2 separate regions of the Homo sapiens genome follow, and region 2 is linked to region 1. The links come from fine-mapping of genetic effects on gene expression. A gene starts in region 1. The other region holds a variant in brackets. All regions are shown on one strand. Distances are from middle to middle.

Evidence for each region. PIP is the estimated chance that this variant, and not a neighbour inherited with it, causes the effect.
Region 2: its variant is fine-mapped to the expression of GALK2 in monocytes (BLUEPRINT, PIP 0.94).

What each region holds. Positions count from the first base shown.
Region 1 is chr15:49,162,935-49,175,653 of GRCh38, reverse strand. GALK2 (galactokinase 2) reads right to left here and starts at 5,407. Exons shown (of 10, transcript NM_002044.4): 1 at 5,279-5,407. The coding sequence starts at 5,331. MIR4716 (microRNA 4716) reads left to right here and starts at 6,501; the gene lies at 6,501-6,584. RefSeq lists enhancers at 5,220-5,459, 5,091-5,995.
Region 2 is chr15:49,312,629-49,325,347 of GRCh38, reverse strand. GALK2 (galactokinase 2) reads right to left here. Exons shown (of 10, transcript NM_002044.4): 9 at 5,543-5,744. Among named protein-coding and RNA genes, the nearest start is that of FGF7, 100 kb to the left of the region's middle. The variant TA/A (reference allele first, on the strand shown) is at 7,289.

The sequences.
Region 1 (12,719 bases):
TTAACATACCTCAGATGGCTCAGAGCTATTTTTCTTTTCTCACCTACTAGAAAAGGGCATGTCCTTAATTTAATAAAGGATGTTTACCAGAAACAGCAAACATCATATTTGATGGCAAAATATTAGAAGCATTCCCATTTGTGATCTGAGAAACTTAAGTAGATGTCCCTTTATCAGGTAAGGGGGACTCTAAAGTTAAGGTAACAAAAGTTACAGGTCGAGGTGTAACAACTTCCTAAATTCTCATGGCTACAAGTAAAACCACTCTCTTGCTAAACCCCCTAGCAATAGCAGCTATTGGACACCTCCTAACTCTGACTTATGATCCAGGCCACTACAACTCTGATTGGACAGAGGACCAGCCTTACAAACATTCTTTTCTGATAAACAACTGCAGACCTTAAGCTAGTTTCAGCCAGCCTATAAAGGCTGTGCACTAACTGTCTTTGTGTCCTATAGCTCACCTTGTTATGTGAGCCAAATTCCACCTCATTTTAATGCTAAAACCTGCCACGAAGGGAACATGGGATGTATGTTACATATATGTTTACCCACTGCGCATGTGCTTGGCTCCCCTCATAAATATGTATAGCTTTTCCCCAAAACCTACTGAATATGTATGACTCTATTGTATAAGACAGACTCTGTGGGGCCTAAAACCCAAACTTCCTCTTCCCTACTCGAAGTTAGAACACCTTCAGTCCACACTGCAGACTCTCTCTTCTGGTCTACAAACTGATAGTGCCAATAAAGCTCTTCTTTCTACTATCTCACCATTCTGGTGGTCATTTGGATGACATATTAAAATAAGGGTGAAGACAAAGATGCTATCATCATTATTATTCAACATACTACAATGCATAAATTATAAAATGTCTACATAAGATGTCATAAAGTTAAACTAGAAACTATATTTATAATATATATAGAATAAATGGTTTCTATTAAAAATACATACAAATACAAAAATACACACATATAAAAAGAGTTTCTAAAAATAACAAGAAATAGGCCAAGTGCTGTGGCTCATGCCTGTAATCCCAGCACTTTGGGAGACCAAGGCAGGCAGATCACGAGGTCAGGAGTTCGAAACCAGCCCGGCCAACATAGTGAAACCCTGTCTCTACTAAAAATACAAAAATTAGCCTGGCGTGGTGGTGAGCACCTGTAGTCCCAGCTACTTGGGAGGCTGAGGCAGGAAAACTGCTTGAACCCGGCAAGTGGTGGTTGTGGTGAGCCGAGTTCATGACACTGCACTCCAGCCTGGGCAACAGAGTGAGACTGTCTCTTAAAAACAAAACAAACAAACAAAAAAGCAAGAAATAGGCAATCCAATAACATCTTTTTTGCAGGGCCATTTGACAGGAGCTATCAACATTTTAAATGTTTATTACCTTTGGCTCTGCTTCCATTTTCATAAATGAGCTTTAAAAAATTCACAAGAATGCTCAGAGAATATATATACATATATGTACATATGTATATGTACACAAGGATGTTTGTTGCAGCATTGTTTACAAGAGAGAAAAATTAGAAATCTAAGTGTACTAAATGTTGAGTGGTTAAATAATGGTATTCATACTACAAAATACTCTCAGCCCTTAAAAACAGTGAAATAGTCCGGGGCACAGCGGCTCAGCCTGTAATCCCAGGGAGACCAAGGCGGGTGGATCACTTGAGGTCAGGAGTTCAAGACCAGCCTGGCCAATATGGTGAAATCCTGTCTCTACTAAAAATACAAAAATTAGCCAGACATGGTGGCACATTCCTGTGATCCCAACTACTTGGAAGGCTGAGACAAGGAGAATCTCTTGAACCCAAGAGCGGAGGCTGCAGTGAGCCAAGATAGTGCCACTGCACTCCAGCCAACAGAGCGAGACTCTGTCTCAAAAAATAAAATGAAATAAGTAAAAATAGTGAAATATATCTGTATGAACTGATATACCAGATATCTGAGAAAGATTAAGTGAAAAAAAGTAAGTAAAAAAAAACAAATATAATTATTGGACTTATGTGAATATATCATTTTTATAAAATATAGTAACAATGATATAAGGACACAATAATATTACAAGGATACAAACCAAATGAATAACTTCTAAGAAGAGAAGTAGAAATTGGCAGCCAAGGGTAGAAATCAGAGACAATCAGGAAAGAAACTGTGGGATTTTCAGGCTTTACTGAATATACTTTTAAATAATCCAAATTTTTAATATTAAAAATGTATTCAGTGTCACCCTGCTAGCTCAACTGGTAGAATAGAGACTCAAGAATGTGTTCATACAGCAGCATTATTCATAAGAGCCAAAAGATAGAAGCAACCCAAATGTCCATCAATTGTTGAATGTATAAACAAAATGTATATCCATAAGCTAGAATATTATTTAACCATAAAAAGGAATGATATACTGATACATGTTAAATGATGTACTGATACATGAACCTTCAGAACATTATGCCACATGGAAGAAGCCAGTCACCAAAAAAACACACATTTTATATGATTCCATTCATTTGAAATGCCCAAAGTGACTAAATCTATAAATACAGAAAACAGAGCAGTAGTTGTTTAAGGCTAGGTGAGGGGAAAGGGAATGGAGTTCTGGGGTGTGATAATCTAAGGGATGGCTGGGTTCTTTCTAAGAAAACGTTCTAAATTTGATTATGGTGATGGTTGCATAGCTCTATGAATACATTAAACCCATTTAATTGCAAACTTTAAATGAATTAGTTATATGATACGTGAATGTCAATAAAACTGCTACAAAAATAGCAATAATCCAACAAGTTTTAAAACTTAATCCAAAAGAGAAAGTAAAGATAAGAGATACAACTGCTAAGAATGCAAAGAAAGCCAGAACAGTGAAATTCAGAGTCTTACGGTACCGGTACCATGCAAGAGTGGGACACAGAAAGAAAATATTAGAACTTCAATTTCTATTTGATTTTTACATAAAAATAATAAAAATAAAATTAAGTTTTACTAAAATGTATGATATGGTTGACCAGTGCCTTTACTCAAAGGATCATGTGCCTTGTGAGGTTGAAGAGGCATCCTGGAAAAAGAATAAGAGTTCCACAAGAAAGCAGGCTGACCATTCATTCATTTTTTTTCCTTCTCAGCATATTGCAATACTTGACCGGTTAGGTGAATTTATAGATTATACTATTTAGATTTAATAAAATACATCCCTCCTAGAATGAGTAAGTGGCTGCAAAACATTCCTGCAAATAAAACATTGCTTGAAGCTAATAATTGCATTTTGTGCACAAATGAAAAACAAGAAAACGGCAGAGCTTATCTACTATGATCTCTTCTGTGGATAACACAGAATAAATATTAACAATAAATATTTGTTACATGAATAATATAAAAATCATGAAAAGCAAGAAGAACACTAAGGAAATTCAGTAAACAATTCTTCACTTTTAGTACATGTACCTATACTTGTTACCACCATCCTCCCCCAAACAGGGTAAATATAGATAGAAATGTTGATCTTTATTATTACAATCACATAAAATGGAAACACATTAGGAATTTACACATGGGTATGTTTTATGTAGAAGATTAAACTATAGACGTGGCACGGTGGCTCACGCCTGTAATCCCAGCAATTTGGGAGGCTGAGACGGGCGGATCACTTGAGGTCACAAGTTGGAGACCAGCCTGGCCAACATGGCGAAACTCCGTCTCTACCAAAAACACAAAAAAATAACGGGGCGTGGTGGCGGGCACTTGTAATCCCAGCTACTCTGGAGGCTAAGGCAGGAGAATGGATTGAACCTGGGAGGTGGAGGTTGCAGTGAGCGGAGACTGCGCCACTATACTCCAGCCTGGGCAACAGAACAAGACTCTGTCTCAAAAAAAAAAAATAAGACTAAACTACAAGAGATCAAGTTATTTTCATGTAACAAATTTCTCATTAATCTTATTGGAAGCATGCCTTTAACAGTGTGTCTTAATTAATTCAAATATATAAGGGCAACAGTGCTATACAAGAACCTCTAGAGTATATTAAAACATTCAAAGACATTGAGAAGTAGTCCAAAGCTGTGCTGGACTCTATAATAAGAAATCATGCTTCTTTCTGGTAACTAAAGACACACTGTTTGCTGGTTTAAGGATGAAAGAACATTTTCAAGTTGTAGTAAAGTATAATATCATCAACTGACACACGGTGGTAATAAACCACCAAGTAGGAAGAGCTTAAGGACTTGATGCCAGAGAAAAAAACTAACAGAAAAAAACTGAAAACAGCAAAGGCAGAGGGCCGGGCGCGATGGCTCACGTCTGTAATCCCAGCACTTTGGGAGGCCAGGGTGAGCGGATCACTTGAGCTCAGGAGCTCGAGACCAGCCTGACCAACATAGAGAAACCCCATCTCTGATGAAAATACAAAATTAGCCGGGTGTGGTGACGCCTGCCTGTAATCCCACCTACTCAGGAGGCTGAGACAGGAGAATCGCTTGAACCTGGGAGGCGGAGGTTGCGGTGAGCCAAGATGGCGCCACTGCACTCCAGCCTGGGCAACAAGAGCAAAACTCCGTCTCAAAAAAAAAAAAAAAAAGAAAAAGAAAAAGAAAAAAGAAAGGAAGGAAGAAAGAAAAGAAAAGAAAAACAGCAAAAGCAGAGAGTCAGGAAAGCCCTTCGCTAATGTAGCAGGTGACAGACTTCATTTTATGAGACCTCAGCCCCATTAGTCAGAACGAAGTATTTCTACAAAGTACCTGTAACTGAAAAGATCCTCCCCGAGACATCACTAAACTATTAGTTACTGTGTAGCTAGGGACTGCCAGCAAATTAATTCCCTAAGTGACAGTTCAGAGATTCTCGTGTTTTTGTTTTGTTTTGTTTTAAAGAGGATGCAGACACCAAGAAGGTTTTTGTGTTTGTTTTCAATTAATATTTAGAAAGAAGACTTTTAAAAAGCAGTATCAACTGGCATGCGAGACAAAGAGAGGAGTTCAGTGTGGATATGGGCATTTCTGCTGAAGCCCAGTAGAAAGAGTACACTAATTACAACAAGAAAAGGAAAAGAAGAATCTGCATGGATGAAGAAAAAAACATACAACCCTTCGTAGTAGTCAAGGTAGAATGTGTTTGCGGCGTGATCTTTTTTGCAAGCCCAGCCACGTGTCCTTATAGAATCCCAAGGGTTCCACTTGCTCCCCGGGACCAAAAGCAGCGCCCCAAGGGAGGAGCCAAGTGCTGTGGACCCGATCTACACGTAGCCAACCCAGCAGATCCCAAAGCCCGGCGTCTCCTCTCCCCCACCTAGGATGTTCTGCCACCTGGACCCGACGCGTAGCAGGGCTCTCTGTAGCCATATTTCGCTAGATCCTTCTTTCTCCTGTAGTTTCAAGTGTCTAAGCAAAGCTCCCAGAGCAATCACGAGACTTCTGTGACAGGAGCCGTTTTCTTCCGGGAGATAAACAGCTCCCGCCCTGCGGAAATCCTGCAGCTTCGCTGAGGTGGCTGCTTCCAATCGGCCCCTCCTCTGGCTCCTCCTCCCTGGACTCAGCCAGGGTTCCCTCCAAGCAGCAGTCAGGTACAGCCTCCGTCCTGCTCTTAGCTCCCAGGGAGGGACTAGGGCCTCGCAGGAGCCCCTGCGCAGAGCACGTGCGAAGCTGACTAGTGAGGTTTTCTTTTTGCGCCCTGTGGATGTCAGAGAACAGTGTCATAACCTGGCGCCCTACATACACCTAGTTTCTGATCTGTCTCGGGCTGCGTTTTTTTGTTTGTTTGTTTGTTTTTTAGTTATGGTTTTGGTCTTTATTGTTCAGCAGCTACTCCCCAAACAACACTAAAATGTTTAGCTATTGCTTCTTTGCGGATTACTTCCAAATCAAGCAACATAAAATTGATGTATCACTTGATTTAAATAGATTTGCATTTATTTACAGGTTAGAGGCATTGGTGGGCCTTCCTAGAACACAGTAGTGAAAAGACGGAAACACATGCCTTTTAATGTGCAAGACCCCTTAGCATCCAGTTAAACCTCTTCATTTTTCACTTATCTAGAGAAATCCTAGATGCCCTATCAAAAGTACACTATCCCTAGTACATCACTAACTTTTCCTTCCTTCATAGTTCTCCTATTTGCTTATGTATTTATTGTGTCTCTCACCACCTCCATCATCACTACCACTAGAAAGCAACTGGGGGCAGGCAGATTGGTTTTTAATGAATAGGTAAGATAAACTGAATGAACGACGAAAGGTGAAATGATGTGCCTGAGGTCACAGTGATCATTGGGAACAAAACTGGAATTAAAATTCAGATCTATTAACTCTCAATCTAGTGCACTTTGCACCTCAGAAATATTGAGATTAAACCCAAGCAAAGACAGCTAGCAATAAACCCATTCCAAAGTTTCCTGATTAAGGAAGTTTGAGCCAACATGCCCAACACACTAGGGGTAGTAGCATAACTCAGAGAGATTCGATAAGTTGTATACATCAGTAAGTTACTGCTCCAGAATTTCTATATGTATATGCATACTTTGTCTCCATGTTTCCTTCCCCCTTCTGTATACATGTATACAGGAGGAAGGGGGAAGGAAACATGGAGACAAAGTGTGAATGGACAATAAAGCATAGCCAAAGAGTGGCAGCCCCTTGGCACCCCGTTGGGTTATTACTGTAAATGATACATCAAAGAAACAAAGTTACTCTGGTCTCAGGGCAGCTTTCTCACTATTATTTCAGTCCCTCTTTATCATTTTCAAATGAATGAATTATATCTTCTTGTTTCTGGGCCCCAATAAATCCCAGTTTGATGTTCATTTTGGTTTAATTTTGAGTAACAGGAGTCATCACTGTCACTTGTAAATAGTTTTAATAGGGAGATAACCTAAATTTTAAAAAAAAATGTAAAATGTTTAGGGACATCAGTAAATACAGAAAAGAACAGAATCTTTTTTTTTTTTTTTAGATGGAGTTTCGCTCTTTGTTGCCCAGGCTGGAGTGCAATGGCATGATCTCTGTTCACTACAACCTCCACCTCCCAGGTTCAAACGATTCTCCCGTCTCAGCCTCCCAAGTAGCTGGGAATACAGGCAGCCGCCACCACACCAGCTAATTTTTGTATTTTTAGTAAAGACGGGGTTTCACCATGCTGGGCAGGCTGGTCTCGAGCTCCTGACCTCAGGTGATCAGCCCACCTCGGCCTTCCAAAATTCTGGGATTAAAGGTGTGAGCCACCGTGCCCAGCCCAGAATCATTTTTTATTCAGATGTTTCTAATATATTCTTTTGCATTAGTTGAAAAATAACAAATTTTAAAGTTTTGAATTTTTTTAACAGTCCAAAATAAACTCATTTTATACAGGGTTAAAAAAAAATGACTGTAGAAACTGTTTCGAAAAAGAATACTTCCTACTGAATATGTACTTGATGACCGAACATTAACTTTGCTAAATGAAACCAGATGGCAAATCATTAGTTTGGACCTTGGATACATTGCTATTGCAGTCTCAACAAAACCGATGCAGACTAGAAAGCACCTTACAGAGCAATTAGTAAAGCATCCTTTTTTGAAATGATTGGCACAAAGTAAAACAGGATTAACAGAGCTAGAACTAAAACCTAGGTCTCTAGACTCCTAGCCTAGAGGCCATACTACTTCTGAATATGTGACTTTTGTTGAGACCCCAGTAAACTGTGCTTAAAAATAAATTATTGAAATGATTAGAATCCTTGTCCCAAAATAAAATGTGTACATTATAATTTTCATAAAGGATTACTCTTAAAATAACCTGTCCAAACTACTAGAGAACCCCAAATGGACACCAAAAACAAAACATTACTTTCTTATACTACCTTCCTTATACTAGGCATCTTGCTAAGTAAGCACTTTGCGTATATTATTGTCTCTTTAAACCTTTCCAACAATCCTTATGGGATAGAAAAATATTATTTCCTTTTCAATTTCAAGAAGATATTCCTTTAGTTCTTATTAGACATATCTAATAGTGAAAACATTTAAACATTTGGCTGGGCACAGTGGCTCATGCCTATAATCCCAGCACTTTGGGAGGCCAAGGTGGGCAGATCACCTGAGGTCAGGAGTTCGAGAACGGCCTGGCCAACATGGTGAAACCCCATCTCTACTAAAACTACAAAAATATAGCCAGGTGTGGTGGCGGGCGCCTGTAATCCCAGCAGCTTGGGAGGCTGAGGCGGGAGAATCGCTTGAACCCAGGAGATGGAGATTGAGTAAGCCAAAATCACGCCACTGCACTCCAGCCTGGGCAACCAAGAGCGAAACTCCATCTCAAAAAAAAAGAAAAGAAAATATTTAAACATTTATATTTTACAGTATTTTTATTTTCACAAATCCTGAACCTCTGGTTCTTTGCTTTTTGCAAGTAGGCACTCTTACAATAGGTTTAGAATCTGAATTATAAACTAATAAATGGTATATTATGATGGAGTCTTAAACAGAAACCTAATTAATAAACTTGAAATTGTTTCTCCTCAAAGGATATTAGTCTCCATTCAGATAAAATATTATAGCAAACTAAACAAAAACAAAACAAACACTAAAATGAAAGAATACAAAAACTTGATCCAAAATATGAGTTAAAGCATGGGTGTTAGAGACTTACAGACCTGGCTAGTGCCTATTGATGTTTCTCAGCTTAGAAATCACTTCCTTCAGGAAGTTTTCCATGTTCTCTACCCAAAACTAAATGTCTAAGACCACAGAGGGATTGACCATTTATCTGAAATAATGTTATTTCTGTGGTTTAATCTGTTTGTGCAACCTCTGGAAAATATTTCCTATTTTGACTTACAATAAAAACTATTGTTCACAATTGGGAGAATCTACTTCAGTGACCTATTTTGGATATTTTCTCATTATAGTAAATAATATGTAATACTTGTTTATGTCTTCTTTATAATGATGTTACATTCCTTCTTTTTTGTTGTTGTTGTTGAGACCAAGTCTCGCTCTTGTTGCCCAGGCTGGAGTGCAATGGCGCGATCTCGGCTCACTGCAACCTCCGCCTTCCGGGTTCAAGTGATTCTCCTGCCTCAGCCTCCCGAGTAGCTGGGATTACAGGTGCCTGCCACTTAATTTTTGTATTTTTAGTAGAGATGGGGTTTCAACATGTTGGCCAGGCTGGTCTCAAACTCCTGAACTGAGGCCATCCACCTGCCTCGGCCTCCCAAAGTGCTGAGATTACAGGCGTGAGCTACTGCACCCGGCCCCTTATTCTTCTGTTCATAAAATAGATACTGCTCTCTAGTGTATATAATCATTAAATGGCAAAAGATAAACTCATGAATCAGAGAAATCTATATTTATGTAGTTATGGAGGAAATAAAAATTGTGCAAAAATGCTTTAACCGAACATAGATTGTTTTGCAGAGTGAAAAACAAAGCAAAACAAAACGAAGACTCTAAGCACCCTCTGCTTGCCCAGTCATACAAAGCATCACATCAGTACTCTAATTACTTGTTTTCTGTCTAGTCTAAGTTTTTCTACTCAAAGTGTGGTCCTCAGAACAGCAGCATCAGCGTCACTTGAAAGTTTTTAGAAATACATTATCTTGGGCCGGGCGCAGTGTAATTCCAGCACTTTGGGAGGCCGAGGCGGGCAGATCACAAGGTCGGGAGATCGAGACCATCCTGGCTAACACAGTGAAACCCCATCTCTACTAAAAATACAAAAAATTAGCTGGGCGTGGTGGTGGGCGCCTGTAGTCCCAGCTACTCGGGAGGCTAAGGCAGGAGAATGGCGTGAACCTGGGAGGCGGAGCTTGCAGTGAGCGGAGATGGCACCACTGCACTCCAGCCTGGGTGACAGAGCAAGACTCCGTCTCAATAAAAAAAAAAAAAAAAAGAAATACATTATCTTGGGCCCAGACCTACTGAATCAGAATCTACAATGCAAGTCAAACATGCCATTTTAAATTTTCTAGAAGCCACTTTCAAAACAATAAAAAGAAATGTTAAATTTAATAATATATTTTATCTAATACACCAAAATATCATTTTAAATATAATATTTTAAATTATTGACATTTTACTTTTTTAAATAAGTCTCCAAAATCCAGCATATCTCAATTACAGCATATCTCAATTATGATGAGAAACAAGTGGCTGCTATATTAGACAGCACAGAGCTAGATTATAAGCTCCCTGAAGGCAAAGACTGTTTTACTCTGATTTTATAGACTCTGGCTCAGTGTTGAGCAGGCACTCAAGGAATGTTTAATGAAGGAATAAATTAATGAAATCAGATTAGCGTGGTTCCACTACTTTGTGACCCTAGGCAAGTCTGAAATTCCTCTTCTAAAAAAGGGAGATAAAAATACCTACTTCATAGGGTTATTATGAAGATTTTAAAAACCATCCCAACATTCTCTCCAGTTATTCTCTATCACCTAAATCTGGTTTGCTGTCTTTAAGGCCATCTGAAATTACATTATTTATTGATTTTTATACTTATTACCTGTCACCTCCACTAAAATTCATATTCCATGTTTCATCCATTATTCTATCATTCATTCATTCATTTAACAAATGTTTCTCTGTGCTACTATGTTCTAAGCACTATTCTAGGCACTGGGGATACAACAATAAACATAAACAAAAAGCTCCTGCTATTATGGCAAATTAAAATTAGTTAAGTAAATAAATGAATATATTACAAAAATTGATGCAAACTCTGCATCTAGTATACATTCCATCATCAAAATGAAATCTGAGAAACAAATATTTAGACTCTGAAATTAGAAATTTGCATTTCAAGCTTACAGTGTACATTAGCCTGACCAAACTACAGATAAATTGCCCCAATTTAAAACTATATTTTGTTTTTTCCTTTTTATTTCTTTTTTTTTTTTTTTTTTTTTTTTTTGAGACGGAGTTTTGCTTTTGTCATCCAGGCTGAGTGCAATGGCATGATCTCGGCTCACTGCAACCTCCGCCTGCTGGGTTCAAGCGATTCTCCTGCCTCAGCCTCCGGAGCATCTGGGATTACAGGCATGCGCCACCACGCTCGGCTAATTTTTGTATGATTAGTAGAGATGGGGTTTTACCATGTTGGCCAGGCTGATCTTGAACTCCTGACCTCAGGTGATCCACCTGCCTTGGCCTCCCAAAGTGCTGCGATTACAGGTATGAGCCACCATGCCCAGCCTTCCTTTTTATTTCTTCACCTAGAAACTAAATATAGTACCAAGAATCTTCAAACTAGACAATTCTTTCCTCACCTTGTCATAACCATCCAATGTTGCCCACCTCAATGAGGAGCTGATTGTGGTTATTATCTTAAGCAATTTTTTTTTTTTTTGGAATACATTTGCTAATGCTCTCCAGTGACTGACATAACTGCATCTACTGGTTGTCAATTGGCTTCGGCTCAAAATAATACTTAGGCCAAAGTAGCATATTTTGGGGTGGCATATTCTGAACCCCTTCAATGCTTAATCATACTGTATTAGCATATTCCTCCTATGTCAACTATAGAGATGAAAGATATAATTGCAGTCTGGAGCATTCTGAAGGCTTAGTATAAGTAGTTGTTGATTCCCTTAACCCTGCCTCCATCTCTATAAATAGTCCCTTAATTAAATTTTCAGTTAACTTCCCTGAGTATGCCACGAGTTTTCTTTCCAGAACTTTACTAATACAAAAGGAGTCCTCTTTTTCTGCTCTTCTAACACACAGTGTTCAGTCTCCCCAAATTAATATAGTAAAAAAAAATTTTAAAGATGATTGGTCTGAAAGGATGCCAAATCATAAACCTGTTTGGTATGACTCAGCCAAGGCCTGTGAAGAGTCATGAATGCTAAAGTTTACTTAAACACATCACATTTTCATTGAGAATCTTCTATAAGCAAGGCATATGCTGCATTTCAGAGAATTCAGAAGTAAGAAAGACAGTTGTGTCCTCAAGGAGCTTTCTGTTTAATAATGAATAAATGGAAATAATTGTAATACAAGGTAGCATACAATTATGAAAAATATATTTTAAAAGGATCAAATTATGCTGACAATTAAACTGTCATTGGATTTTTGACAAAGGTGCCAAGACAACTCAATTGAAAAAGCGTATCTTTTCAACAAATGATGCTGGAACAATTTGACATCCATATGCAAACTAATGAACCTCCACATTCATTCACACTATACACGAAAATTAAATTTGAAATGGATCGCAGACCTAAATGGAAGAGGTAAAACTATATAAAACTTCCAGAAAAAAACATAAGTGAAAATCTCAGCGCCCTTAGGTATGACAAAGATGAATACAACACAAAAAGCATAAAGAACTCTTACAACTCAACAGTAATAAGATAAACAACCCAGTTTAAAAAATAGGCAAAATATATTTAAAAACATTTCACCAAAGAAGATACATAGATGACAAATAAGCACACAAAAAATGTTCAACATTAGTTATTAAGTAAATGCAAATTAAAACTACAATAGTATACTGCTACATTCCTGCTAGAGTAGCTAAAGTTAAAAAGATTGACCACACTAAATGTTGGCAAGGATGTGGAGCAACTAGAACTCTTATGCACTGCTGTTGGATATGCAAAATGGTAAAACCACTTAGGAAAACAATTTGAGAGTTTCTTAAAAAGTTAAATATATACCTACCATATGACCCAACCATTTCACTACAAGATATTTACTAACTGCATTCACATCTATTCTGCGTAACAATATTACTACAAATGTAGTAGTATAAATAA
Region 2 (12,719 bases), 150 kb before region 1:
AACCAAAACCCTAAAATCCCTCGGATCCCACTTTGATGATTGTGATGACTAGATTGGGAATAATGTAGAAGGGTTTGTTAAAGCAACAAAGGCAGCCTCTACTTTATAAAGCACGATGGCAAAGGCTAGGGCAGATGAGGGATGGAGATTATGAGGAATGTTACTCTTTGATCCTTGTGTATTCACAGAATTAACTATCCAGGCACCCAATATAGCCAAAGTCAAATTTCCTACTTTTAAGTGAACTAATTCGACCATAAAGCACTTACTAAGTTGCAAGATACAGAGCAATGGAGAGGGTGGGGAGGAGATCCAGGAGACCCAACTGCACTACACACTTGAAAAAGAGGGAAGGTAAGAAATTATGCCTTGTATTTAAATTCTGTGTCATTTCTTTCTAAATAAGTAAATATATATTATACAAATGGATATGAAATAAATTATTTCAGGAAATCTAGAATTTAGGAACAGGTCACATCCATCTCTCTGACCCCAGCCCAGCACAATTCTAGAAATTCTAGGTTCTAATAAATGGCTGCTGGACTACGATATTTCCCTTAAAATATTTTAAAAATTATATATAATATAAGCAGTCAGCAGTGTATTTTTTTACTTGAGAAGACTTCTAGCTTCTGCTCTCTGGGAAATGGCAAGAGTCACAGGTAAGGGAACTTCTAGCAGTTTCTATGATTTTTACAGCCAGGTTAGACACCGTGCCTTCAAATTGCTTTACAGTCAAGAAACCACAGCCTTCAGTGTTCAAATGAGAAAGGATAAGAAAATATGCCCACATGTCTACTTTAGAAATGTAAGCCACTTAAAGGCCATTGAAGAGCAGTGGGTTTGGGTCCTGCAAATGGCATGTATATTCATAAGTCAAAGAGGCCCAAAGAGAAGTGAACCCCTAAGGGGAGGTGAAATGGCTCCCTCCCTCTTTTTTTTTTTTTGACAGGGTATGCATGTTAGCACTTAAGGTCATGGGGAAAGAGCATGCAACAATGGATTTGCACTTCATTCTTCCCCATTATGACCTTGTTGAAGAATGGATGCGAGAGGCTGAGCAGCCTCACCATGGAATACATTGCAGAAAGACTTCTGAGGAAGACAAAGTAAATTAACTTTTGTAATCATAGTTGATCCACTAAAATTTGTCATTCATCTCCCTTAATAGCTTGGGCGATAATGCAGCAATTAATCCTCTCTAACTTCAACAAGTGTCAAAACAAAAACAAAAGGCATTAACCATTTTGTCTTAAGTAAAACGAGGGAACCAATAGTGAATGAGCTGTCTCACATATAACTGACTTGGTTTCAAAATTGTTTTGTGTTCTCCAGTAAATTCTACTTAAAATTTAGTCATTTCTTTCTGTTTACATTTTGTTTGGCTACAAAAGATACTTTATAATTCAGCAAACATTATCTTTTTCCTTCATTATTTACTTTGTTTCATATAATTTAAGTTCTAACATTAATTTAATTTTTTAAAAAAGCCTCACTCTGTAAGTATAGTTTCCTTCATCCTCCCTGCTCCTTTCTTTAGATTCTAAACTGATTTTCTCTTGAAGAGCAGGAAAAGGTTCAACTGAAAAAGACAGCTAGCAGTGGTGCTCTTTCCCAACCCCCCTTCTCTCCACTTGGGTCACAAAGTTGTTCTATACATTGTCCTATATGCTAAGTAGGAGATGCCTTTTTAATTCAGTCTAGCTCAGATCACTGTAAGATTTTCTGCTTGTGTATAGCAACTTAGGTATTCTAGGTATTCAAGCCGTTAATTTACTCACTCAATTAGTTGTCTTTTCATACAAATAGTTTCCAAGAAGCCCTTCAGAAACACTAAAGGAATTTTGAAGTGCCATAAGTGGACCAGGGAGGGTGATGTAAAGATTATTTTTGGCAGTGCTCCTCCTTGAACCCATTTCAGCTTCCCTCCTCCTCCCTCTTTTGGGGAAAACAAGCAACCTGCTCAGGCTGCCCAGTCTTAGTCACACCTTCCCTACTGATGTTAACATTTTTAATGGTGGCAGGGTAATTGTGGAGGTGGTGGTGGTTTTTAAACAAAGCAATACTTTGCTAGAGGTTGTGTCTGTGGCACCAGTGGCTCACACCAGGCCTTGCCAGGACCCCTTCCAGTATGTCCAACACCTTCTCTGCCTGACCCAGTGAGACAGTCACAAGGCTTCAGAAGGAACTAGGGCTTACAAGTAGCTCCACTGTTCATTCGAACCTTTCCCCATGTTACTACCTGCTACTCTTGTACCGTCTGTCTTCCCCATCCTTTATCCATCCTTTATCTTATTCCCACTAATTTCTGCATTCTTCTGAACCCCTCCTTCTTGCCTCATTACTTTCCAGACATCTTTTTTTTTTTTTCTTTTTTTTTTTTTTTTACCTGAGATGGAGTCTTGCTCTGTCCCACAGGCTGGAGGGCAGTGTTGCGATCTCGGCTCACTGCAAGCTCTGCCTCCCGGGTTCACGCCATTCTCCCGCCTCAGCCTCCCGAGTAGCTGGGACTACAGGCGCATGCCGCCACGCTCGGCTAATTTTTTGTATTTTTAATAGAGATGGGGTTTCACCGTGTTAGCCAGGATGATCTCGATCTCCTGACCTCATGATCTGCCCGCCTTGGCCTCCCAAAGTGCTGGGATTACAGGTGTGAGCAATTGGGCCCGGCAAGAGAAAGTCACAGCTTTTGAAAGTAGAGAATAGACTGCAATTTCACACGGTACAAAGATACCCATGTGAAAATATGTATTGATTGAAGGAGGGAAGGACATAATGCCTGCATCAACTTAATTCCCCTGGGGCTATCCTCCTCTGAGGTTGCTCTGCCACTTAGGACCTTTCAGTAACTTGCAGCCAACTGAAACATTTGAAGAATATTATCTGCTGGTCACAGTGACAGCAAAGAAAAAATTAATTATATAAGAAGCTTTAAGGACCAGACAACTATTCTGGCCAACAAGCCAGAAGATAATCTTTCAATATGGAAAACTTGGACCCTATATGGTTATCGAATAAGTAGAAAATAACTTTGATACTTAGCAATTGGCTTTCCAAACAAAACAATCATGAAAAAGTGATGGAGCTCCTGAATTTTTCACAGAACTGAATTTTTCTCAGAAAATAAATACAGCAAATGAAAATGAAACACTTTAGCTGCCATTAAGAAAGGATTTTCCAAAAACAAACAAAATGAAAAGATAAATAAAAGGTACTCTTCCAAACCCATTTAAGACATAGCCATAAGCTTTTTCACTAGAACCATATTTTTTAAATGTATAGGTCTGTAGACTGCTAGAACAGAAAAAGCCAATGGAGAACACAAAGCGAAGCAACAGTTCCAGCTCACAGAGCTCAGAATGAAAAGAGAGTCGGAATCCAAGCTTCCTCACTTCCAGCCCACTTTTCATCCTACTCTACACATTACGTTCCTGCTCAACATGACTTTGCTTAATGTTCAAATGCTGGAAACTATGACAACAAAGGCCTCCATCATAAAGCTTCAAAGCTAGGAGATGAAAATAGGTTACAAACACACACGTACACACACGTATGTATGACCCACATTTAAGTGTAATCACATCTTAGTATAACCCAAGGGGAGAGGCACGTGTGGCAAAATCATTGGATTGGGAGCCAGGCTTTCCAATGAACTCATATGTGAAACTTACTCAAATTATTTCATCTCTTAGTGCCTTCCTGGATCTCTAAGACCCCTTCCTGATCTAATATTTTATGGTACTCTAAGATAACTCTTACCTACAGTGGTGAAGTGTGCTTTTCAAAAATGTGGCTTTTAGAGGCACAAGGAAAGTTTCTCAGGACAAAAACCCAGGAGTCGTCTTGATTTCTCTCTTATACCCACACAGCAATTATCTAAGTCTTCCTTGCAGGCATATTTGGCATAGAATTGCCTAGCATTTCCATTGCCCCCTTTCTCTTCTCAAAGCCAGAAGCCTTCCGATGGCCTACACGGCCTATATGGTGTGGCTCCCCACTTCCTTCCTTACTTCATCTACTACCTCTCCTTCCTTCCTGGCCCTCTGCCATGCTGATCCTGCTGAGCCTCACACCTGACAGCCAAGTATCCACCTCAGGGCCTATGCATTTGCTGTTCTCATTTATTCACCTCCTTCAGGCCTCTGCTCAAAGATCTCTTCGTCAGAGTGACCTTCTTCAACCACTCCACAGAAAGAGTACCCACCCAAACCTGTAGTCTCTATTCCTTCTCATTTTTTTCCATAGCACTTATCACTACCATTCAAATTATTTTTAATTGTCATTTCTCTCTTTCCCCACGAGAATGTAAGCTCCATGAAAACAAGTACAGGTTGACCACTCTAGGAAGAGAAAGTTTATTAGAGAATTCCAGGAAGCTGGCAAATGCCCTTCCGCAGCTTTTCAGGTGGGATTCCAACCATCCCACTTCCTTCCAGGCAAAGACATTTCTTCCTGATCTCTGCAGAAATAATTCCACTTCCTCTTATTTCCAGAACTGAACAATATTTGTCCCTTCCATATACTAGGCCCTTGATATTTTCAGAAAAGGGTACTTAAAATGAAACAAGCTGGGGAAGGCTTTTGGAAATGAGTGAGCAAACATGTCAGCAGAGTGATCTTCATCAATGCTGTGTTCAAGTCTTTTGACAAGCTGGATTACCCAGGCCATTTGTGATCACTGGAGTTACTTGGTTTAAACTTTTCAGGCTGGGAGTGTGGCAATGACTGAGGCAAGCCACAAGTGCCAAGTGGTTAATTACATTTCCATTACTAATTGTAGTGTAGCATTGTGTTCTCACAGTGAAGTAACATCTAGCGTTTGAGAACTTTCCCAGTTTCAGTTCTCCCAGGGTCACTGAGCTCCTTCCTGGGTAAGAGGACTAACTCTGTTATCTCCATTCTTTCACAATTTTAGGAAAGCTGATTTTAGGCTTTGTGAAAGAGTTGTCCTCTTTACATTTCTGCCTCTATTAACCATGTATCACCTGGGCTTTCTTCAGCCTTTATTTCCTCAAACTGCCTAAACTAAACCTAGAAGGCAGGAAATGCTGGCTTTCTGGGTGATTCCTTCAGCAAATCTCCCCACATGCTCCCATCAAGCTTGAGATCCTCTGTCAGTTTTCTCCCTTCTTCTGAGTAGAACTACTAAACTTAATTAGGACACTGGACAGGAGTTTCTGGCAGAGCAGCAGTATAATAAAACATATCATAAGAAAGTTAACAGGGCCCAGCTCTGAGCAAAGTTACCATCCTGAAAGGCCTAATCATCCAAAGACGGAAAGGTCTTTCTCATGATGTAAAGAGCTGACTCCAAACTGACTCCAAACCCAGAGCCTCATAAAATCATGGAGCCAGGTAGCAAATCTTTCATCCTACAGGTATTTAGAAGGGAACAAGTGTAGCTCTGTATCATCAGAGACTCCTCATATAGGAAGTGGGGAATGATCTTCATTCCCGTAGATTATGAAATGTTGCATTTTTTTCCATTAATTTAAACAATATTATTTGATGGCATCCCTTGGCCCCCACCAGGCTGCCTCACCGACAGATGTCCACCAGCTGATCCAGCTCGGGGCAGCTGCACTCATACATGTCCCGGCAGCTCATGTGGCTCTGGTTCATCAACTCTCCCAGCAGCTGGACCATGTTTTCAGGTGCTTCTTCACATATCTTCTTAAACTGGAGCACTCGCGCAGCCTCGCTGTACACATGCTTTGCCCGCTGATAGAGTTTGAAGATGAGCACTGAGGAAGGAAGAGGATGGGGAAGGAGGTTAGGAATAGTTACTGGACAACCCAGTATAAAGAAAAATACACTTTTAAAGACTTTCATTTCTGTTTTCATTATCAGTATCTTAAACTTCAATAGGTCTCTCTTGCTGAAAGGATTCTTTCAATTGAAATGTGTCTATCGGCAAGTCAGGTTTACTTTTTTCTTGATACTGAATAAAATCTTGTAACTATATTTCCTTCACTTCACTCAACACACATGTGCATATACTTGTGTGCAATCTAATCCATCCCAAATGAAGACAGACCTAACATGTAATGAGTACACCCTACATGCCAAACACTTTAAAATACTACTTTGTGTAGGCCAGGCGCGGTAGCTCACATCCGTAATCCCAGCACTTTGGGAGGCCGAGGCAGGTGGATCATCTGAGGTCAGGAGTTCAAGACCAGCCTGACCAACATGGTGAAAACCCATCTCTACTAAAAGTACAAAAATTACCTGGGCATGATGATGGTGGGTGCATGTAATCCCAGCTATTTGAGAGACTGAAGTGGGAGAATTGCTTGAACCTGGGAGGCAGAGGTTGCAGTGAGCTGAGATCACGCCGTTGCACTCCAGCCTGGGCGATAGAGCACGACTCCGTCTCAAAAAAAAAAAAAAGAAAGAAAGAAAAGTACTACCTCATAAAGTTCTCATCACAGCACTGAGGGATGTGCAGTATGATCCCTGTTAACAGAAAAGAGAAGGAGGCTCAATAGAGTGAAGTGACATGCTTAAGGACACACATCCAGAATGTGGCGGAAGCCAAACAGATCAGGGATGCCTGGCCCTAGAGCCATGTTCTTTCCACTCTGCCCCAACAGAAAGGACCACTGGAAATTCTTATGGTGGCAATTTTTTAAATAAAAATATTATATGTCCCAGATAAACACAATTATTTATATGGGATATATAATGTTTATATATGTACCTATATATATATATTGCAGCATTATTTATCATAGAAGAAAATAAGAAACAAATATCTAATAACAGAGGACTTTTAAAAATTATGCTATATTCATTTTTGAAATATTACTGCTATCAAAACTCAGATTCTAAGGCAATTTGATATATAGGAAATTATTCATTATTAAGTGAAAAAACAACCTACAAAACTATATGTACAACTGATACTAATTTTGCATACACATATTTATGTATATTTTAATTTAAAAAACTGATAGGAAAGCACGAAAATGTTAATATTAGTTATCTCTGTGGTCCATTATGGGTGATTTTATTTTCCTTTTGACACATATATGTATTTTCCAGATTACCCACAGTGACACTGTAATTTCAGCTACAGAAACATGGTATATTGCAATGGCTATGTCTATAATGCTTACACATTCCTGTGAATAACAACTGAGACTTCCTTACCATTTTCACCCATGCTGAACAGTTGCTGAGCTGGTGTGGTGGGTCTGGGAAAATTTTGGAAAATTTATGAAAATTCCCAGGCCTAGGGGAAAGAGACAGGGCTGAAAATCAAAAAGTCTATAATTTTTTTTTT[TA/A]ATTTTACTTTAAATTCTGGGATACATGTGCAGAATGTGCAGGTTTGTTACATAGATATACCATGCCATGGTGGTTTGCTGCACCCATCAACCCGTCATCTCTATTAGGTATTTCTCCTAATGCTATCCCTCCCCTAGCTCCCAACCCACTGACAGGCCCCAGTATGTGTTGTTCCCCTTTCCCTGTGTCCATGTGTCCATTGTTCAACTCCCACTTATGAGTGAGAACATGTGGTGTTTGGTTTTCTGCTCCTGTGTTAGTTTGCTGAGAATGATAGTTTCCAGCTTCATCCATGTCCCTGTAAAGGACACGAACTCATCCTTTTTTATGGCTGCATATTATTCCATGGTGTATATGTGCCACATTTTCTTTATCCAATCTATCATTGATGGGCATTTGGGTTGGTTCCAAGTCTTTGCTATTGTGAATAGTGCTGCAATAAACATATGTGTGCATGTGTCTTTATAGTAGAATGATTTATAGTCCTTTGGGTATATACCCAGTAATGGGATTGCTGGGTCAAATGGTCTTTCTAGTTCAAGATCCTTGAGGAATCGCCACACTGTCTTCCACAATGGTTGAACTAATTTACATTCCCAACAACAGTGTAAAAGCATTCCTATTTCTCCACATCCTCTCCAGCATCTATTGCTTCCTGACTTTTTAATAACCGCCTTTCTAACTGGTGTGAGATGGTATCTCATTGTGGTTTTGATTTGCATTTCTCTAATGACCAGTGATGATGCACTTTTTTTCACGTTTTTTGGCCGCATAAATGTCTTCTTCTGAGAAGTGTCTGTTCATATCAAAAAGTCTGTAATTTCTTAACAGATCTGTGACAACTAGCTGTACACAAATTGCTACCTGTATAATGCTCCCTTTATTTCCTCACCTCTAAAATGAGGTTGAGAATCACTTCTCAGGATACTCCCAGCCCTAACATTTTATAATTCTATGAAGGGCTTCTTCCAAAAGTATCTATCCTTCAACATTCCCCCCATATTGTTATACTTTGTAAAGAAGATGCTGTTACTGGTAGCTTTTGTTTACACCCCAGTCCTACTCTCTGCCCTTTTCCACCCTACTATCAGCCCCAAAGGCTGACCTGTATAGACTACACCAGTGAGTCCCTTGCCATCTAGATTTGAGAGCAGGAAAAGATCAGCAATAGATGGGAGGGAAGAGAGTGATGTCAGAGGATTTATTCCCCGGCTCCTCCCTTGCAGAGCCATTTAGAGCTGGCAGTGTCTTTCCACTGAAGGACACTGAACATCCTTCAAAATCTCCTTTTCTACATGACTTTCTCTCCTCCTGGGTCTGCCCCTAGGTTCCTCTCCCCTAAACTATGATTACTTTTTCTGAAGCACTTTTACATTTCTACTAATGAGCCAATAATTTTTTTTTTGCCCTTGATTTTTCTTGTTTATTTATTTATTTATTTGTATTATACTTTGAGCTCTAGGGTACATGTGCACAACGTGCAGGTTTGTTACATATGTATACATGTGCCATGTTGGTGTGCTGTACCCATTAACTCGTCATTTACATTAGGTATATCTCCTAATGCTATCCCTCCCCCCTACCCCCACCCCACTACAGGCCCCCATGTGTGATGTTCCCCTCCCTGTGTCCATGTGTTCTCATTGTTCAATTCCCAGCTACGAGTGAGAACATGTGGTGTTTGAACCAATAAATCTTATTAAAGTTTCAGGTTTCATTTTTCCCCTCCACAGCACTGTCCTTATAACTCTTACTTTCGTAGATAACCACTATATCATTATCACACCTAACAAAATTACCAGTGGTTCCTTAATATTGCCTGATATTCAGTCCATATTTAAATTTTCCCAATTGTCCACCAGTTTACATTTCAACTGGTTTACACCAAGATCCAAACAAATTCCACACATTATATTCAGTTGTTATGTCTAATAAGTCTCTTTTAGTCAATCAAGAATTTAGTAGTTTAGTGATTTTTGATACTCTGGATTTTCAATATCCCATCCAAGCACATTTTAGGGCCATATCCTGTAATAAAACTCAATATAGTCCATCAGGGAGAGTACACTTTGGTTTTCCTTTAGGATTACATATTTCTTTAGGATTAAATATTTTATTTTAGGATTAAATATTTTAAAATAGAAACTATCCAGAGAGATGTTTTCTATTAAACCCAGGACTGGTGCTTTGATTTTGACAAAAAGCATTCACAGTACACCCTGCAGACTACCAGAACCTCACAATCCTGGCACCTTCCTGAATCTGTTCTCTTCTTGCAGAGGAAGTGTGTCACAGCAGGACTTCTGAATAGGAATGTCTAACGAGGACTCTTGCTGGGCATTCTGAAGGTGCATGAGAGATTGCCATGGCTTGCAATCTCTTGAACGGTAGTAACTCAGACAACAAGGGAAAGGGCAGAAAGGGCATCTGTTTTCAATTGTGATATAAAAATCTTGCCAAAAGCTACAACAGATTTGGAGACCACCCTTTGGGTGGGAAAGCAGTTCTGTGTTGGCTGAATGTCACAAATGCTCTCTGGATCCAGGGTTCTGGCTTGTTATGTGCTGGCAACTCATCAGGTCTCTGTTATACAGATACCAAAAAATCCAAGAAAATCTGAAGCTTTATCCATAACAACTTTCTTCCCTGTCCAGCTAACATTATAGCTGGATGTTCCAGCTGTCTATAAGCTCTTGTAATCCTTGGGAGCAATTATTACATTAAAGGATGAAAGAAGCTGTTTCTTACTATGTTCATTGCATGCATGATTACTTCCAAGGCAAATTCAATTTAAGAATATAACACTAGATGATATTTTCCTCCAATATTGTTAATGGCCTATCCTATTCAAGAAAAATCCAAAACTTCAAAGCGGGATATACGTCATAGTCTTCAGAACACTGATTTTCTCCAATGTGAATCTTAAATAATTACTGAATCTAGTCATGAAATCATGGCACAAATTCTGAAATCTAAATGTTCATGGCTATATATACTTAAACTGCAAAATAAATATTTCATTTTGTTGCTAATAATTTTGGCTTGTATAATAAATTATATTGGCTAAATTCCTTCTGCCCAGCCTCCGAGCTGTGCTTCCAGCACACCATGTGGCTCCTGTGACAGGCCCTTGGCAGTAGCTGTTTTGTTGTCCTGAAATGCTCTTCCCCAAGATCTTCACATGGCTGGTTCCTTCTTGTGGTTCAACACTCAGATGTCACAGCTTTGAAGAGACTCAACTCCAATCTGGAGTAGCCCACACACATACATATTTTCTCCATTCTATTTTATGCTCCCAACACCTATCACCATCCAATATTTTCCTGTGTGTTCATTTGTTCATTGGTTTGTGGTTGTCTCCCACCAATGGAAGCTCAGCTCCAAGAAAGCAAGGGCCTTGTCTAGTTTCTTCATAACTATCTCTAGCAGCTAAAATAGGATCTGGCACTTAGTAGGGGTTCAATAAATGTTTGTTGAATGCATAATTCAAATCCTTCTCCTTGTAACAAAACTGCACTGAAACTAGGCTAAATAAACAGTAGTGAGACAAGTACAATATGGAATATAAAGGAGACATACTATTTTAACAATTTATACTCACTAGCATCCTCACCAAAAAGTGGGGAAAGTTTGCTAAAATAAAGTTTGGAAACAATTAGTAAACTTCAGTGCCCAAAGTATACCCTAATATTCATTATCACAGATGACTGAGAATTGTTTATATTGTATTTTGCTTTACAGATGTGAGAGAAAAGAGATTTCTAAAACAAAATCTGTTTCAAATAAAAGAGAAAGAATATAAAAATGGATAATTGTAAACAGTTAAAATTAGTTTTTCTTTTAGGCAATCTTTGTAACAAAGAGTTGCCTATTAACGTTTTCCTTTAAAAGATGGTTACATAGTTTATGATCAGAACCCATCTCTAATCAAGGAATCTAAATCAGGGCACACATAATTGGTTATTTTATTGGATCTCTGGTGGGAAATGGTGAGGGAAAGCCTTTGACAGGTGAGGCACACTGAGCGCCACTTTAAGCTCTGAGGACAGCAGGTCAACAGTAGATAGAGGACATGTCTATTTCATCTCTGAAAGAGTCCCACTGATTTAAATTTAACCTATGCATGCAAGGGCTAGTGGCCTCTTCTTTATTACCTCATCTTCTGCTAAGAGCAATGCCAAAAGCACTGAGTCATCTGAAAGAGCTTCACTGATTTAATTTTAAGTTCTCCATGCAAGAGCTGGTGGCCTCTTCTTTATTACCTCATCTTCTACTAAGAGGGATGCCATAAGCACTGAGTATGATAGTCATCTAGCAAAAGTTAACCAACAGTTCTTATTGAGCACCTGCTATGCACCCAATACTGTGCTCCAAATGACAGGAAAGCCACATGAAGTAGAACCTCTGCATTAAGGGAACTTATAACTTAGTTACACAGATAAGACAAACTATGACACTACTAGACAGTGAGCAATTGCAGCAGACATCTGAGTGCTGGAAATGCTGAAGGTGCACCAAGAAGACAGGGCTTGCTGGGGAAGGACCAGTAGTGGGAGATGTCACAGGAGAGGGGCCTGAGCCACACAGTGTCCCTTCTGTGAAGAGAGGATGGCCAAAGGCCCAAGGTGGGAACAGGCAGAGTGTGTTCATGGGCCTGAAGAGAGCAAGCTGACCAGAATCTGGCTCTCTAGAAAGCTATCCTCACATCTGAGGCTTTAGCATCCTCAGCTACATCCACTACACAAAGATTACAAACAACCCATGTGCCATAGCCAGCCACGGTGATGCCTTCTTGACTCAAATGTCTTTATATTGGAAGATTTACCTAAGAATCTGGATTTCTACTTACTTTTGGAAAACTGGAAGGTCTGACAGTGCTGGATCTGCATTACTGTCTAGCAACTGTTGGCTGGAGCTAAGGAGTACCTACCCCTTTGAGTCAGGGTACACACACTTTATTCCACACAGTTCTCACCATTCCCAACTATGTGACACTTAGCCTGCCTCACTAGTTTATATGCCAGCCTGGTCCTTGCAGGTATGTGCTTGTGGTCCTTGTTCTATAAAACTTTCTATAATAGGACTTCTCAGCAGAAGAGTGGGCAAATATCTTCCCTGAGTGGGTCATCATGCCATAATGAGCCACTGTTACTGTTGCTATCAAATATCACCTCCCATAGGTGCACTGATAAACAATGTATTGAATTATAATCTGTCTTCCTGTAACTTCTACTCTTTGGTCTTGGTTCTGTTCCCCAGACATATGTAAACACAAGGTAACCCTTCAGATATCTGAAGACAGCTCTCATGCACTGTGCCTTTTACACATTGTTGAGGGTCCACTATGTACCTGCTTAGGGACCAATAATGAATAAGTGTACTAATCAGGGTTCTCCAGTGAGACACAAACAACAGGATATATAGGTATA